Linked DNA regions of Homo sapiens. The protein of the gene in region 1 purifies or fractionates together with the protein of each later gene. This does not show direct contact. Each region holds a gene or a part of one and is shown on either strand. Other genes may lie near its edges.

Region 1 (3,751 bases):
AAGGGCACCATGAGGTCCCCAGCATGCCGTTCCCCCACCATCCTGACCTCCTGGGATACACAAGGAGAAAGATAAGGCAGTATGAGAAAAGAAAAAAAATACATGGAGGGGGTGGAATCTTGAGACACAGAGAAGGTGGGTGGTGATCGGTAGGCTGCATGGTAGAATTTAGGAGGCCAAACAGAAAAGGCAAAAAATAGGATGGAATAAATAGCTGAACATACTTTGGGATTTATAACAGAAGGAGAATGGAGTGAAGACAGAGAGGGGATGAAGAAGGGGTTTAAGAAATGGAAGAGTTGGCTGCGCCCAGTGGCTCACGCCTGTAATCCCAGCACTTTAGGAGGCCAAGGTGGGCAGATCACGAGGTCAGGAATTCAAGTCCAGCCTGGTCAACATAGTGAAACCCCGTCTCTACTAAAAATACAAAAATTAGCCAGGTGTGGTGGCACATGCCCGTAGTCCCAGCTACTCAGGAGGCTGAGGCAGGAGAATCACTTGAACCCAGGAGGCGGAGGTTGCAGTGAGCCAAGACCGCGCCACTGTACTCCAGCCTGGGCAACAGAGTGAGATTCTGTCAAAAAAAAGAAAAAAAGAAAGAAAGAGAGAGAGAGGAAGGAAGGAAGGAAGGAAGGAAGGAAGGAAGAAAGGAAGGAAGGGGAGTTTACAAAAAGAGAATTAAAACAGTAATAGGCAAAGTAACAATAAACAGAGTGACAGTTAAGCAAGACAGTTTAGGCAGGATAGCAGGGTGGCTGAGGGTTACAGATTAGGACTTAGAAGAATGACATGGGTGGACAGGAAGGACAGCAGCATGTGAGGCAGTGGGATCAGAACATGTGAGGAAAAGTAGGATAGCGGAGGGGCAGGACAGGGAGCATAAATGACAGAGTAAAGCTGCAAGGTGGATGTAAAGGGTGGGCCATGGCAGATATAGAGAATGGAGATGACAAAAGGCTGGGATGTTGGGGCAAATGACTGGATAGGAAAAGTATATTCGAGTCTTGTGAAAGGGGGAGGGCCCTAGGGACCAGATAAAATTATGGGAAAGATGACCAGGTCCCACCCTGCCCTTATACTGCATGTATGGTAAGGATTTAAGTAAGTTAAGTAGATAAGATAGAGGTGGTAATCATGGGGTTAAAGGTAGGAAATGAGGTCAGGAGAGAAGCAATATTCAGAGACTTCAGTATCAGATAAATGTGACTCTGAATTCTGGCTTTCTGTCTCACTGTCTGCATAGTTTGGAACAAGTTACTTAACCTCTGAGCTTGTTTCCTCTTCTGCAAGATGGTAGTAATATTCATAGTTACTTCATGAATTTAGTAGGATCATGTATGTAAAGCACTTGGAACAGCATCTAGCACATAAAGAGTGTTCAGTAAACATAATCTGTTATTATTCTTAGATGGAGAAGGTAGGGGAGTCATCAAATAAATGCAAAGTTATTAAGACCGATTATAAATGGGAGTGGAATAATCAGGAAAGATATGCGTGATATGAAGCAGTGCAGGGGCAACAGGGAATAGTGAGAATAAGAATGGAAGAAGGTAAACCCAGATGAAGATATAGTGGTCAGGGCAGGGGTCATGTTGGGGTACAGGGACAGAAGATGAGAGTAGAGGTGAAGAGGAGGGAGAAAGATGGATGTGGACCTCAATGGAGGTAGGGGTCCACTTAGGATGGGGGGCAAGCCTGGATGGTAGCCAGCGATGTGCCAGCGGGCAACTGATTAGCAGCAGGGGGAAGTAAAAGAATCGGATAGGAGGAGGTAGGAGGTGTAACGTCGGCCTAGAAGAGCAACAATAAACTGAGGTGTGGGGGTGAGCTCTGGACGCATGGATGAGACCAGCAGATAGCAAGGTCAAGCCCAAGCTTGCAGAGCCGTGGGGAGGTGGAGGAGGCCAGCACCGCAGAGGGAACGGGTTTGGGGGGAGGGGGAAGGATGGTTGGGGGCGCGGTCCAAAAAAGCTGAAAAGATCCAGTGAATCTCAGAGAGCAAGACCTGGTTCCCTTCGTCAGCCCCATGGACAGTGGCTAAAGGACCGGGGAGGGGACAGGAGAAGGGGAGGGATTGGGTCGGCGCAGAACTCTCCTCTCACCTCCCACCGCCCGGCTCAGCCCTCGCTGGGACCCAGCGGCCGGTCCCGCCGTCCTGGCCCCGCCTCCTCAGAGCTCCCTTCCGGGTCACACGGCGAGTGCACGCACGGCCGGGCACCTACGGGTCCCACCGCGGCCCACGCCGAGCGTGGCGGAACAGCGCGCGAGTGGAGCATGCGTGCTACCGCGGGCGGCTGCACTGGAAGAGGGGCGTGGGGGCGCGCTACCGGAGGAGCCTGGGATCGAGGTCACGTTGCTCCTCTCTCAGCAGCAGGAAGAAGCCGTTTCCATCCAGTCAACTGTGAAGCCCCCTCCTCTTCACTGGGTCGGCCCTCCTAATCCTCCCTCTCCCATCACAGCGATCATGCTGACGAAACATGGTAACCCACATTCCCACCTTAAGGCTGCCCTTTTTGACTTTTCAGTAGGTCAGGTGCCCATGAGTTTCCCAAACCCTTCAGCAATGCTTTGGATTAGTTGTGTCACTTTTCCTGTTAATTAAAATTTGCTCCTCTGCGTTGGCCTTAACACCTAGCGAAGCCACGCACAGGGAGAAGGTCCTCGGCCCCGCAAAACTTTCCTTAAATTAAATCGTATAGAATTAAACAGCCCAAAGCACACCTTAGCATTACCGTTCTCATCAAGCAGCCCGGATCGCTACTCAGAGCAGCAATTTTAGGAGTTTGCCTCGCGTTCATACCCCCATCCCTCCCTAAGTAGAAAAACAGAACCAAAGACCCCACAGTCTGTGCACAAAAATGATACATTTATTGAAAGAGTATTTTTTTTTAATACAAAAGAAAGCTCTGTACATAGGACTGTGACCATGTCCACTATTCCTGGGTCAGCATCCCAGGGGAAGTAGAAACCACTGACATACACACTCACATTCAAGCACACACACTCACTCAGGCGCACACACCCACACACACATACCCCAGAGCCACCGAGGAAGGGAAACACCAAGGGTCGCTGCACATAAAAATATCACCTCAACTCATCCCTGACACACGCATGTCCTCCCAAGGCCACGCTCACACAACACACATTATAAGCACTTTGCCTGATTCACTCACTGGGTCTGTCTTTTGTGGGAAGGAGAGGAAGAATTCATCAAAGGTCTCCTCCCCATGGGTGGGGGAGTGGGGAGTGAGTGAGTGATGGTGGAGTGAAACAAGAGCAGAGAAAAGGGGCTGGGCAGTTACAGACCTGAGTCCCAAGCTCCCCTGCTCTCTGGCCCCTGATTTGCCATGCCCCAGCCTTGAAAGCCACCCATAAGCCCCAGCTATCTCCAGGAGAAAGCCCAGAAAGGTGACTTCCATCTTGGCACCCCAAACTGGGGCAAGACAGCAATGAGGGTTAGAGGTTAGGGGGTTCTCAAACATGTCGGCAAATCATCCCCTTGATAACTAGGCTGTGCATAAAATCTTCCCCCATCCCTTCACCTAATCACAGAAGCCAGCTTGTTCCTACTGAAGGCAGTCTTAGGGGTTAAGAAAATTTCACCCCACTGCTGCCCTGTTTCTGAAAAAGCTCCCCTTCTGGATATAGGTGGTGAAGGTAGGCTCTGACACAGGGTAAAAGACCCTCCCCCCTATGCTGGCCCACCCTCAAGGTCTACCCCAAAGGGGGAGGAGGGGGGTGGGGCATG
Region 2 (3,751 bases), on another chromosome or scaffold:
TGGGCCAGGCGTGGTGGCTCATGCCTGTAATCCCAGCATTTGGGGGGCCAAGGCGGGTGGATCATCTGAGGTTGGGAGTTTGAGACCAGCCTGACCAACATGGAGAAACCCCGTCTCTACTAAAAACACAAAATTAGCTGGATGCAGTGGCTCATGCCTGTAATCCCAGCTACTTGGGAGGCTGAGGCAGTAGAATCAGTCTGAACCTGGGAAGCGGAAATTGCAGCGAGCCGAGATTGTGCCATTGCACTCCATCCTGGACAAGAGTGAGATTCCATCTCAAAAAAACAAAAACAAAAACAAAAACAAAAAACAAAAAACGACTATGTAGGCCAGGCACGGTGGCTCCTCTCTGTAATTCCACCTGTAATCCCAGTAATTTGGGAGGCCAAGGCAGGACGATCCTTTGAGGCCAGAATTGAGACCAGCCTGGGAAACAGTGAAACCCCATTTCTACAAAAAAAAAATACAAAACCTAGCCGGACTTGGTGGCTCACGCCTGTGGTCCCAGCTACTCAGGAGGCTGAGGTAAGAGGATCGCTTGAGCCTAGGAGGTCGAGGCTGCAGTTAGAGGAGATCACACCACTGCACCCCAGCCTGGGCGACAGAGCCAGACCCTGTCTCAAACTATAAATTAATTAATTAAATTAAAATTATTACATAATAACAGAAAGTGATTTTTTTCTCCCACTTCACTGCCCCATTTCCTACCTCACCATGGGAAGAGGGAAGAGAGGCTCTCACAATTGAATTAAGTCACTACCCTCTGGCTGAATAGGGATTCCAAGTGGAAGCTGACCTCTAATGCCAAGATTTACAGAATGTATGTGTCTTATAGATAGGAATTTTAAAATTCTCAATATCATCTGTATAATTTAAACAAGTTCTAAGTTATTAGATTATATAAACAGAAGTCAACATATCACAACTAATCATATCCAATGAACTCACCCACTCATCTGAACCCAAAGTCCCCCACCCCTTTTAATCTTTTGAGACAGGCTCTGCTCTGTTGACCAGGCTGGAGTGCAGTGGCATGATCTCTGCTCACTGCAGCCTGGACCTCCTGGGCTCAAGTGATCCTCCTGCCTCAGCCTCCAGAGCAGCTGGGATTACAGGTGTGCACCATCACGCCCAGTTAAATTTTTTTTTTTTTTGACAGAGATGGGGGGGGGGGTCTCACTATTTTGCCCAGGCCGGTCTTGAACTCCTGGACTCAAGCAATCCCTCTGCCCCAGTCTCCTAAAGTGCTAGGATTACAGGCGTGAGCCACTGCGCCCAGCCCCCCTTTCTTCATTACTGTGCTTCCCTCCCTAATTCTGTACATATCTCTCATTCTCCCCTTCTCTCTCTAGCTCTTGTTTTCTTTTTCCCTGGGATCTGCTCCTCCTGCTGTTTTTTGTTTTGTTTTGTTTTTTTCATTTTTGCTCTCTCTTGGCAAATCCCTCACTCATCCTCTACTTTGCCATCTGTTATGGTCTTTCTCATTCTTCTTTTCTCTGTCTCAGGTTTTCTACTGCTCTCTCTCTCAGTCTCCTGATCCCTTTGGCCAACACAATCACAGGAGGGCTTTGGAGTAAGACGCCTGCATCCCGGAGGAGCGCATTTTCCAGGGGCTGGTGCAGGGCAGGCAAGAACACCCGGTGTCATAGGACAGCCCCGGGCACCTCCCCAACGCGGGCTCAGGGTAAGCGGTGACTGCGGTGGGGAGACCTGGGGAGCATAAGGGCCTGGAACGAGGAGGGAGGTGGGGGGCGACGGCGCCTTAAGACAAGACTGGGAGGCGCCAAGGGCGGGAATCCGCCTCGCGGTAAGGACTTTAAAAAGTGCGGGTCGGGAGGAGTCAGAAAAAGGTTTTGAGCAGGGAAACTACGCGATGGGAAGTGTATACATTGCCCTATAGCAGAAAGATTCGGGAAGGGACCATCCTCAGGGCGACTTTAAACCCAAAAGGAAGCGACCCCTGGACTCTGACGAGGACGTCTAAATTTGCTCTAGGTGAAGGAACACGGGTGAGAATTTCCAGGTCTATGGGGACCCCACGTCCCAGGTACAGAAGCGCCGGGGACTTGGGAAGCGCAGACTTAACACAACACAGAGCAAAACTCACCGCTGCGGTGGGACCATCACTCCATGCGATCCGCTTCCGGGTTTGCGCGAATCTGCGCGCGCAGGACAGAAGCCAGGCCTGGGCGGGACCCGCGGGGAGGTAGGCGGGGCCTGAGCGAGGTAGGGGCGGGGCGCGAAGCGGAGAGACCTTCCCCTTTAGAATTGGCAGAAGGCGGGGCCGGGGTGGGACCCGTGCGTCTCTCAACCTCGCTCCCAGCGCCTCTTGTTTTCGAGCTTTGGAGGCGAGACCGGACAGGAAGGCTGAGGCATGATTCAAAAGCCCTGGAATTGTCTGAAACGGGGATGCAAACTAGAATGTGAAATGCAAAGCCCTGCCTGGGTGGAACATACGATTTCATGCTGACGGCCCACAGAACAGAATAGAAATCCTCTCCCTTTCTATTCTCCATTCACTGGGAAAGGAGAGTCCACCCTGTCCTCAGCTTCAGAGATTTCCCTAGGGCCTCCCCCTGGGATGCGGGACGGAGTGCTCAGGCCAGGGAGGAGTGAGGTCACCACCTACTGCTTAAACACAGCAGAGATGCGGGCGCGGGGCGAAAGCCTGAGGTCCCAGCTACTCAGGAAGCAGTGGCAGGAGGATCGCTGAGCCGGGGGGGGGGTCCAAGTTAGCCTGGGCGACAAAGTAACACCTCCTCCGGCAGCGCTCCCTTCCTCGTCTCTCTCTCTCTCCTTTTTTAAAATTTCTTTAAATAAAATTTTTGATTTTGTGAGTTAGGGATCCAACATTATTCATTTTCACGTGGATATCCAGTTAGTTGTCCCAGCACATTTGTGGAAGAGATCTATTACTTTCATTTTTATATTTAGATTTTTCTTTTCTTTTCTTTTCTTTTTTGAGACAGAGTATTTCTCTGTCACCCAGGCTGGAGTGCAGTGGCGAGATCTCGGCTCACTGCAACCTTCACCTCCCGGGTTAAAGTAGTTCTCTTGCCTCAGCCTGCCAACTAGCTGGGATTACAGACGCGCGCCACCAAGCCTGGCTAATAGTTTTGTATTTTTAGTAGAGACTGGGTTTCACAACGTTGGCCAGGCTGGATTCGAACTCCTGACGTCAAGTGATCCACCTGCTTCGGACTCCCAAAGTGTTGGGATTACAGGCGTTAGCCACCGCGTCTGGCCAGGAAAACTCTTAGAAGTTGCGCCTGCATACCACTGGACTCAGCTTGCATGACCACATTCCTTTCAAGGCTCAGAATTATTTAAAGATCCATACATTTACATTGGAATTATTTGATGTTTGAAATATTTAATTTCCTACCGAGATACGGGTACTGTCTCCCTTGTTCTTTGCCTTTCAAAGAGAGACCCCAAGTCCTTCAGAAATACATCCATGGGGGTTATTAAGCTGAAAAAAGGATTACGTGGTTTCTAAAAAATACCACTTCAGGCCAGCGCGGTGGCTCACGCCTGTAATCCCACCACTTTGGAAGGCCGAGGCGGGCGGATCACTGGAGGTCAGGAGTTCAACCCCAGCCTGCTATCTTAAAAGAATACGCTGTCATGGGATATTGGGTCATCTGGACATTGTGTTTCTGTAGGAGTTTGTCCTTGCAGGTATCAATAAGCTGCTTTCCTTAACCGTAAACATCTTATAACCGTGACTCGTGAGTGAGCAGTAAGG
Region 3 (3,651 bases), about 12 Mb from region 1:
AATCTCTTTTCTTTAGCAGAGACCTAATGCCACTCTCTTGGATATATGCAAGATATAGGAAATACAACCTTCCTGTGTATCCATAGGTACTTTCCTAAAAACAATAGGCATGGCCTATACATATAGAGATTCTTTTATTAACATACATATTTGTGTTATTACTCTCTCTACTTTTCTACATGTTTCAAATTTTTCATTTCAAAATAGAAATGTTATTACCTTTCTTGCTTCTTTTATCATCTTCCGAATAGTTTCTTTTATCGTAAGTAGATGTGCTCTTGGTGGATGAAAAAGGAGATCTATATGGGTGCCCCCTAAGAGTCCGGGCATCACATATGGCCAGCCTAAGTCAAGATTTGGAGCTTCCACATCAGACTCAACAGGCCAGTAGGTCCCTGAAGATAAGGTATCATCACAGGAATCATCAGTACCATGTGCTGTGCTTTGTGCAACTTTCTGGACATTTTTCAAAATATAATTAATTTCTTCCTCAGCAAGAAAGTCTGAAACTCGTTCCTGGACAAGAAATTCTTGGTATGCTTCTAACCCGTGTTCAATCAGAATATCAATGGCTACTCGATACCATTCCTTGTAGTGAGGCTCAATGTAGTTGTCAGATTTACACTCATCATTCAATGAGGAAAGCATTGATGAGGTCTCCATGCTTGCAAGTGTTTGGCTATGGCACTTTCAAATGTCCATTCATGCAGTGGTGAGAAGTATCTGGTATTTGAAAAGAAGAAAATCAAGATCAAGTTAAAATTCGGTAACAGAATGTTTTATGATACATATCAACTATTATTTTTTCATTTACACATTTCCATTACCAGAAGCTCAAAATGACACATATTTCATATCCAAAATGACATTAATAGCACCACAATTCACACATCTATCACAAATAAGCTACACAGATTTCCCTTACAGATTGCTGTTGGATTTTCCTTTTCCAAGGTATCTCAATTTAAATTAAAAGAGAATTAGAAAACAATCAATGCCTACCCAGCCATTAATGTCTCTACTGAGTACCTGTCAGGCATACAGAATATGCTAGATGTAATGTTAAGAGCACAAAACACTGGTCTTTCAGGAATTTATTAATTAGTTGAGGAGGCAAATTGTACGCAAAAAACATTACTTACCACTTTGAAGAAAGCCATACATTGCTAAAGGCCAAAATGAGTAATGCCTATATTCAGTGCTTTAAGAATAAAAGCAAGTAGAGATCAATATGGAGCAAATGAGTTATGAACAGCCCTGAGCAAGAGGTGGGCTTCGGCTGGACCCGGAGCAATGAGTAAGAATCTGATCAGGTGGCAAGAAGAAATATTTCCATCCCATACAAGGATAAAAACATGAGCAAAATCACGGAAGAGATATGAGAGTTTGGTACATTCACTAATTATGAAGGAAGAAAAAAATTAAAGAAAAAAAAACCTGGCATGCTGGAAAACAGGTTCCTTTTAACAGGAGTAAGAGATAAAATTGAATAGACAAGATAAAGCCAAGAATGGACGGACACAAAGTTTTGTGATTCAACAAAACTTCTGTTTGAAACAATTCTGGCAGTAGCAGGGGACTGAAGAAGAGACAGGTAGCTAGGAGAGTGTTTCAGTGTTCAAAAACGCAGTGAGGAAGTGGACAGAGTATTCCAGAGATGGTTTAAGGAAGGAGCCTTGAGATTCAGTGACTGGACAGAGTATACGAGATGAAATTTAAGACATGAAAGATAATTCAGAAATTTCTCTTAGGAGTCAAAATCTGCCTATGCAGGCTCACATTCCATCTCTCACAATGCCCACAGAATGCTCTCCATTCAATCATTCAGTCACTACTCCACACTGTGTGAGATACTGGAATGGGCTCTCTCAATCAGATGATGGACTTTCCAGTCTTTTGAAGTCATGATCTCCATTGTGTGGATTCAAGGTACAGATTTATGATGTGCTATAAGCATTAAAAAGATAACTTGGAGCATGGAACACAAAGGGTGCCTCCATTTACCATCTTAGTGGAGACAATCCTGTTCCTATCTCTGGGCTCAGAAGTTTTACAAAGAAAGTCTAACAGTACAGAAAGCCCAAAGATTAAATATGATACAGGAATAAAAATAGAACATGTTCTTTTCTGTCTTTTGGAAAGCCCTCAGCTTGAGTCATAATTTGATCCAAGCCCAGACAACTAGAACTATACCTGGATCCTAGGCTCCACAGTGCAGCATCTGAACTTTGGGGATGGCAGCATCTGAATTCTGGTGATGGCAGTCTTCCTGCCCTATAGTATAATGGTGAAGTTTTGCAAAAATATTCTCTTCTCCAAGAGAAAAAGGAAGAACACCCATCTTGTCTGCTAGTATAAAAGCTATCGCATGGGGAAATAAAATTTCTTTTGTTACTTAATTAAAATTAATCTATTGACATGTATTGGGATACATCCTAAAACTTTCATAAATTTCTCAATCATTCTAGGATATGTCATCTTTTTCCCAATCACATTTCATTCAAGTTCAGTGGTTCTCAAAAGGGAAGATTTGTCCCTCATCTGACAACATCTGGAGACATTTTTAAATAGAATCACTTGTGCGGAGGAGGGCTACTAGCATCTAATGATTAGAGACCCAGGATGCTGCTAAACATACTACAATGCATGAGACAGCCATCCATATTTAGAAATAATCCCACCCAAAATGTCAACAGTGCCAAGGTTGACAAATCTTCATAAAGTTGCTCACTTCATATTCATGATATCATGCCACTAATTAATAACTTTCAACACTCATTGAAGTTCTCTTTTGCACATAATGCTCATTGTTAGCAAAAAAAATTAAAAAATAAGATTTGCATTCACTTAAAAGACTCAATCCTTATGCTTACAGTTTCCTAAGGTTTATTGAAGTACAGTTTTCACTTGAAAATTCCAGCCAATGAAGGAACAAGTATCTGGTGATTACATGATAAATTACATCTGTAATTTGTAATTGTTAAGTCATAGGTAACTACTAGTTGTTCATAATCCAAGTTTCCTGCAAACCTATTCATTTAATTTTTAAAATGTAACTTTTGAATTCCTATATATGTGATGTTAAACACCTGTTACCTATTTGGAAGTTAAAATGCATAAAGTACTTTTAAAATACTACCTATTTCTGAGCTACACCTATGCAAATAAATATTTTGGAACTGTAAAAAATTCATTCTGGAACTATGTAAACTCTGAAATCACAGACCTCGAAAGGACCATGAAAACCAAACCATGAAAACATAGATAAATTAATCTGAAGAAAAAAATTGGAAATAAGAAGTGAAACTTATTTATAATTAATTACCATTACAGGACTAATCGATAGCCAGATACCACACAGAAAAATATATTATACAAAACATACAACAGAATGAACAATGAGGTTACAATATTATGTACAAGACTTAAGATTACTACTAAATATACTTTATATTGTTCTGGTGGAGAGGCTATGTTCCAGCCACGGTTTAGAGATATTTATCATAAGAGCTATTTGCATGGAATACTTGTGAAGGAACCATCTATAAATGAATTTTATCAGAGAACTACAGGGTAATGGCACTTGCATAGTGAGTATTGCAATTAAATATCACCTGTATTTAATTATAGACTTAATAAAGCACTCTCAGC

The links.
Region 2: the proteins of CUL9 (region 1) and ZNF845 purify together in Homo sapiens (affinity purification with mass spectrometry; one large-scale study listed by BioGRID and IntAct). This does not show direct contact.
Region 3: the proteins of CUL9 (region 1) and FAM83B purify together in Homo sapiens (affinity purification with mass spectrometry; one large-scale study listed by BioGRID and IntAct). This does not show direct contact.

The regions. Positions count from the first base shown.
Region 1 is NC_000006.12:43,180,601-43,184,351, reverse strand, and holds the start of CUL9 (cullin-9), read right to left. Parts: upstream 2,157-3,751; 5' UTR 2,103-2,156; exon of another isoform or gene 1,264-2,102; intron 51-1,263; 5' UTR 42-50; coding exon 1-41. UniProt on the Homo sapiens protein: Core component of a Cul9-RING ubiquitin-protein ligase complex composed of CUL9 and RBX1. The CUL9-RBX1 complex mediates ubiquitination and subsequent degradation of BIRC5 and is required to maintain microtubule dynamics and genome integrity.
Region 2 is NC_000019.10:53,332,152-53,335,902, reverse strand, and holds the start of ZNF845 (zinc finger protein 845), read right to left. Parts: upstream 2,155-3,751; 5' UTR 2,111-2,154; intron 1-2,110. UniProt on the Homo sapiens protein: May be involved in transcriptional regulation.
Region 3 is NC_000006.12:54,867,259-54,870,909, reverse strand, and holds part of FAM83B (protein FAM83B), read right to left. Parts: exon of another isoform or gene 2,194-3,651; intron 724-2,193; 5' UTR 664-723; coding exon 220-663; intron 1-219. UniProt on the Homo sapiens protein: Probable proto-oncogene that functions in the epidermal growth factor receptor/EGFR signaling pathway. Activates both the EGFR itself and downstream RAS/MAPK and PI3K/AKT/TOR signaling cascades.